Linked DNA regions of Homo sapiens: region 1 is linked to region 2. A link means that fine-mapping ties the variant in region 2 to the expression of a gene that starts in the linked region. Tissue or cell type: fibroblasts. Region 2 holds a variant in brackets; the other region holds the start of a gene. All regions are shown on one strand. Distances are from middle to middle.

The links. PIP is the estimated chance that this variant, and not a neighbour inherited with it, causes the effect.
Region 1: it holds the start of CKMT2-AS1, and the variant in region 2 is fine-mapped to the expression of CKMT2-AS1 in fibroblasts (GTEx, PIP above 0.99).

Annotation. Positions count from the first base shown.
Region 1 is chr5:81,299,883-81,302,786 of GRCh38, forward strand. It overlaps CKMT2-AS1 (CKMT2 antisense RNA 1), which reads right to left and starts at 1,687. Exons shown (of 2, transcript NR_034123.1): 1 at 1,405-1,687. ZCCHC9 (zinc finger CCHC-type containing 9) reads left to right here and starts at 1,705. Exons shown (of 6, transcript NM_001131035.2): 1 at 1,705-1,816. RefSeq lists enhancers at 1,434-2,223, 1,787-1,886, 2,037-2,216, 2,224-2,904.
Region 2 is chr5:81,233,056-81,235,959 of GRCh38, forward strand. It overlaps CKMT2 (creatine kinase, mitochondrial 2), which reads left to right and starts at 267. Exons shown (of 10, transcript NM_001099735.2): 1 at 267-322. The variant A/G (reference allele first, on the strand shown) is at 1,657.

The sequences.
Region 1 (2,904 bases), 67 kb after region 2:
TTAAAACTTTCTCCACCATATGAACTACGGTATTTGTGATATGTACCATACCAAATCTCAACATTCCTACAAGCACTGACTTTAAAATCCCTTCTCTTAAAGAAAACTGGGCCACTTTCTAGTTTGCTTTAAACAAACATCGCAAAGTACTTATTCTTCATTTACTTAACAAATACGAGGGCCAGGCGCGGTGGCTCACGCCTGTAATCCCAGCACTTTGGAGGGAAGAGGTGGGCGGATCGCCTAACTCAGGAGTTTGAGACCAACCTGGCCAACATGGCGATATCCCATCACTACTAAAAATACAAAATCTAGCCGGGCGCGGTGGCGGGCGCCTGTAATCTCAGCTACTTGGGCGGCTGAGGCAGAAGAATCGCTTGAACCCGGGACGCAGAGGTTGCAGTGAGCCGAGATCGCGCCATTGCACTCCAGCCTGGGCGACAAGAGCCAAACTCCTTCTCAAAAAACAAAACAAAACAAAACAAAAAAACAAATACGCAGTGAGCACCAAGGATGTACCAGGCAATGAGGATACAATAAACTTACACAATTATTGTGTAATTACAAATGTGAACCGTGTCATAAGAAAGTATAGACTGCCGTGAGCACACAGTAGGGGATTGGTCTAGTATGGGGGTAGGGGGCTGGAAGGCTTTCTTGAGAATAAAATACTTAAAGCCTTGAAGGGTGAGTAGAAAGTAACTGGAAGAAGAAAAGGAGTACCATACAAAGAGACTAGCAAATGTAAAGGCCTGGAGATGGCAAGGTACACACGGCATTTGAGAAATTGAAAAAATGATCCTATGCACGGAGCTCAAAGGAGAGACTGAGCAAGGTGAGGCTAGGGAAGTAGGCAGGGACTTCATAAGGAGTTCGAATTTCATCCTAAAACAATGGGAAGCGAAGGGAGAGTTTAAAGCAGTACAGCAGTACTGCTTTAAATGTAATGATTTACATTTTCAAAAGTTCCGTTCCTACGACACGGAAAATGGATTTCAGGGAGTTGGGGCAGAATGAATCCCCAGACCAGTTGTAGAACTACAGGTACAATATGGGACAAGGGAGGAGGTGCCAACAGAGATAAAAAGAAGTGGACAAATATTCAAAAGGTTAAATGGATTGAGCAAACTGTTGAGAGTAGTGGTCCTGGTAAATTGCATTTTTTCACTAGGCACAGCTGGTGGTGGTATCCATTTGCAAGAAGCTACAGAAAATGAGCCGTTTGGAAATCCAGGGTTTTCCTCTTAAAAAGAGAACTTGTTTGGCTACAAAGTGTTAACATTTTAATTGAATGCTCAACGAGCACTGAAGGGGGGACATGAGGCACTGCCTCTCACCCAAGAGAGCCCCCAAATGTCCTTTTCAGACTTTTATCACAGTGACCCACTCCCACCGCGCCTTTACCTTGCCTCTGCCTGGAATGTCCTTAACTCCCTCTTGCCGGCAATTTCACCAGATTTTTGATTTCTTATCCAGTCTCACGGGAAGCCTTTCCGGCATCTCCCACCCTACCGATCTTCCCGTCTATCTCGCCTGCTACACTGTGAGTTCAGACAGCACGGATTGAACTCTTCATCTTTTCGTGTCGGCGTCCTGCACAGGGCCATCCCATCACTAAGCGCGCCACAAACTCAGCCCAGTATTGACGCCCACGAGTCGCTTGTAAAGACCGTCTGTGACGCCGGAAGTGACGCGCTCTCGGGCACTATGTGCTTCCGGTCTCCAATACCGCAGGAGGGCGGTCTTCCCCGGCTCGCCAACTCGGCTGCTCTGGGGGATTCGTGCGCGGTAAGAAGCTGCGCGGTAGCGCGGTGAGGTGAGGTTCTCAGCCACCAAAGCTGCAGGGTCTCGTCGTTCGTTCCCTCTGGCCTGGCGGAACTTGCGTGGGAAGCTGGGAGGACAGAAGGCTTAGCCGCTGGGTCCCTGAGCTGGCTGGAGCGCGGGCTGTCTAGGGGCGGCGACCTCAGCTGTTGGGCTCCGGCTGCTGGGGGCTGTGCGTCCAGCCGCCCTGGAATCCGCCTGTGGGTGGGCCGCTTGGCTCTCCCACTTCACCCTCTTGATAACCCAGAGCCTCCCCCTTCCCACGTACGTAGGGGAAGGATAATCTACTTCCTTTTGAACAGCTTCGGTCCCCACTATGACAGTCGCATAAACTTCAGCGAAGAGTGCGCTGGTAAAGTGGCATGGAGTTTCTCACACCAATTCATTGGGTCCACCCTTCAGCTTCTGTGGAAGGGGTCTTTCTGTTACTAGGAGCTGAGACTTGGGGGGTTGCCAGGGATGCTGGTCTTAAAAGGTGATAATTTAGGCCGGGCGCGGTGGCTCACGCCTGTAATCCCAGCACTTTGGGAGGTCGAGGCGGGCAGATCTCCTGAGCTCAGGAGTTCGAGACCACCCTGGGCAACATGGTGAAACCCCTTCTCTACTAAAATACAAAAAATTAGCTGGGCGTGGTGGCACGCGCCTGTAATCCCAGCTATTCGGGAGGCTGAGGCCCGAGAATCGCTTGAGCCCTGGCGGCAGAGGTTGCAGTGAGCCAAGATCGCCCACTGCACTCCAGGTTGGGCTACAGAGTGAGACTCCGTCTCAACAACGACCACAACAACAACAAAAAAGGTGGTGGCTTAATACAGCCATGCTCCCCTTAAGAACTGGTATAGTTATGAGAAATGGTTGGGCCGTTTCGTGGTTGTGTGAACATCATAGTGTACTTGCACAAACCTACACAGCTGGGCCGTATGGGATAGCCTGTTACTCCTAGTCTACAGACCTGTACAGTATAACTACTAAATACTGTAGGCAGTTGTAAAAGGATGGTGTGTATCTAAACACAGAAAAGATACTGTAAAAATATAGTGTAAAAGAAAACATGGTACAGCTGAATAGGGCACTTACGCATGGAGC
Region 2 (2,904 bases):
CAATTTCACCTGCTGGCCCTTCCATTCTGAGATCCAGAGCCCTGGCAAAGGAGCCTCCAGGACCAGGCCTGGGAAGCAAGACTGGCTCCGCCTTTTACGTTTCAGAGAAAGGGCAGGTGCTATAAAGGGCCCAGCGCCCACGGGCCTGCCTTCAAGGGTACAGCTGTGGGGGCCGGTGCGCCCGGAGGTCTACGCTGGGATTGGTGAGGTCCTCTGGCCCCGCCCCGCCAGGGAGGATTTCCAGGCCGGCCCGACCAGCTCGCCCTGCATACACTTCTTGGCTGTGTGCGCTCAGCAGGACGTGGGAGGCTCCGGCTTCAAGGTCGGTGAGTCCGTGAAACTCTGCTTTATTCCTCCAAAGAGGGGTCATGGCTAGAGCCAGTGTGAAGGGCCTTGGAGGAGTGGATGCCGGGCTGTAGACGGGGACCCCGTTAGGACGCTGACTGCGAGGAGGCAATGGTGACTCGCTAAAGCCAGCAGAGCTCCCGCCCTTGGCCGAAGCGACCCCTCCTCCCTGCACACAGGTGGGGGCAGCTCAGCACCAGGAGCAGAACAAATCAGCACGCTGCCTGCAGGGCCTCTTTTTGGTAGTGAATCAGGAATTTTTCTCGATGGAAAAAAAAATCTAAAGGCTGTATTTTGACGCTAAGTTTGGGACAACTTTAAACTTAAAGTGTCTTTCCCTTGTAATTCACAGAGTCTAATCCACTCATTTCTGGGAATGTTTTTCCCCAGCAGTCTCAGTCTCAAAAGACATGTAAATCAGTGACTTGGGATGAACTAACTAGAAAATTAAAATTTTGAGAAGCTATTTGCTCATAAGCCCAATAGCCAGGCCCAGTTTAAACGGGCAAATAGTATTGCTAGAGATTCAGTTTTGCCGTCACTAATACTAACACATTGATAATGAGACAAGTAACCGTCTCCCCTCCCCACCATCCTTACCTTTCCCACCGGAGGTTAATTAAAAAAAAAAAAAAAAAAAAAAAAACCTATGGAATTGGCCCCACGTGTTTCACCTGGGCAGAGGCCTGTTCTTCACTAGCTTGCTTGCTTGGTTGGTTGTCCCGGGGTTAAAATCAGTCCTGTTCTTGCCCCTAGAGTGGTCTGCCTTCAAATGCTCTCCTCCGAATGTGAGGAAGAGTGACATTTGACAAACAGACCAAAACCTTTAGGTCTCCTCAGTGCTGCCCTTTAGACCTTCCAGAAAGTGTTGCCAGGCTCGTGACCCCTCACAGTGTCAGCTGAGTCAAGTGAGGGGCAGTTAGTGGCCCTCAGGACAAGGTTACGCTAGGTACACCAGTGTGCTGTTTCCAGAAGGGCTGCTTTTCCTGTCTACGGCTCTCACATTTTCTCTGTTCTGAACTCGTGTCCTTGGTCTGTTCTCTCTGTCCTCTCATAGAGGCGAGCATGGCCACAGCATGTGGCCAGAGACTTCCTGACAGGCAGGCTCTTCCGGGAGGCTCTTGGCCTTGTTTGGCGGTCTGAGCACTTCACTTCCTCTGCATTGATAGGCACCTTTTCCAAAGACCCCAGACTTTGGAGTTAATCACGCCTGTGGGTTAAGGCACTGTCACAGCAAAGCACAGGAGTGCCACATGCACCCCATGGACTCTGCCAGCCTCATGACCAAATCATATCATTAGGAAATGGGCC[A/G]TAGGCAGGTCAGTTTTCCTAAGGAAACTGTGGGTTGGGTCGGGGGGAGTACCATACAGAATGGGGAGTCCTGGGGTTTCAGACACAGGAGGGAGACTGACTTTGCCCCTAGCTCAGAGGCCCTGGGCCTCCATCTCTGCCATAGCCTACAGCAGGCTCCATTTGTCTTCCCAAAGGAAGCCACGTAGAGTCTGTGTCAAGCATTCTGGGAGCTCCTGCCCACAGAGCCAGGAATCCAGCAGCAACCCATGCTGAAGGTGACTGCTGGAGGTCACACTAACCCTTGCCAGGAAGCCTCAGAGACTCCCTCCCTTGGGCGGGGAAGAAGGCAGCCCACTTCACAGCACTTCAAAGGACTAGATGGCTCCTAGCTTCCTGTTTTCTTGAAAACAATTTACCCTTGAGGGACAAAGTCTGGTAACGGTCCCATGCCTTCATCACAGGAGGCCTAGGAAAGGCCTCTGTTTTACAGAGTAGGATTCTAAATATCTCCTTCCTGCCTAGGACTGTCTATTTGCTGAGTAGAACAGTAATGCCAAGAGTGCCCATTAAGGTTGGCTGCGTACTAAGTGGTTTTGAGGTAACGCACACCCTTTGCTATCTTAGAACTGGGAGGAGACAGGCATTTTCTGCGGCCTAGGAGCCTGGCATCGTGAGAATTTGTTCAGAGTGTTCTGTGGAGCTGGTCCAAGCCCAAGGACATCCTCTGTTTTGGGGTGGCTCTCTGGATGGAAAGCTGACACGTGGTCCTCCTCCTGCCCTTCCACCTGCCCTCTGGCTGAGGAGTTCAGACACATGGACGCTGTGAATGGCTGGACCAGAAATAAATCTGAGTCAGCAGAAAGGCAGACATGGTCCATCCGGGATGCCCAGGAAGAGCAGGGGGCTCGGGCTGGAGGCAGTGACAGAACCCAAGGCCTCCTCTTCACATTCTAGGATGTCACAGAACCAGAGAAGAGCATTAAGACCAGGATCTGAACTCCCAGTATACCTGCCTGGGACCAAGAAATGTACAGCTTGTGGCCACTTAACAAAAGGGCTTGATGTAGCTGTCGTTGTTTTTTTAATGCGGAGGGCAGTGTAGGAACAAACAGGATATTATTGCTTTTGGCTCTGTCTGGCTGTGCTCTTGCACCTCCCCATCGCTCCAAATCTCCCTGGCTTGGAGCCCAGGTATTCTGCCAATTTTAGCCTAGATGCTGTAAGCAGTGTTTTTCAATTCAGGAGTCATTGTGGTGTTCCAGGTTA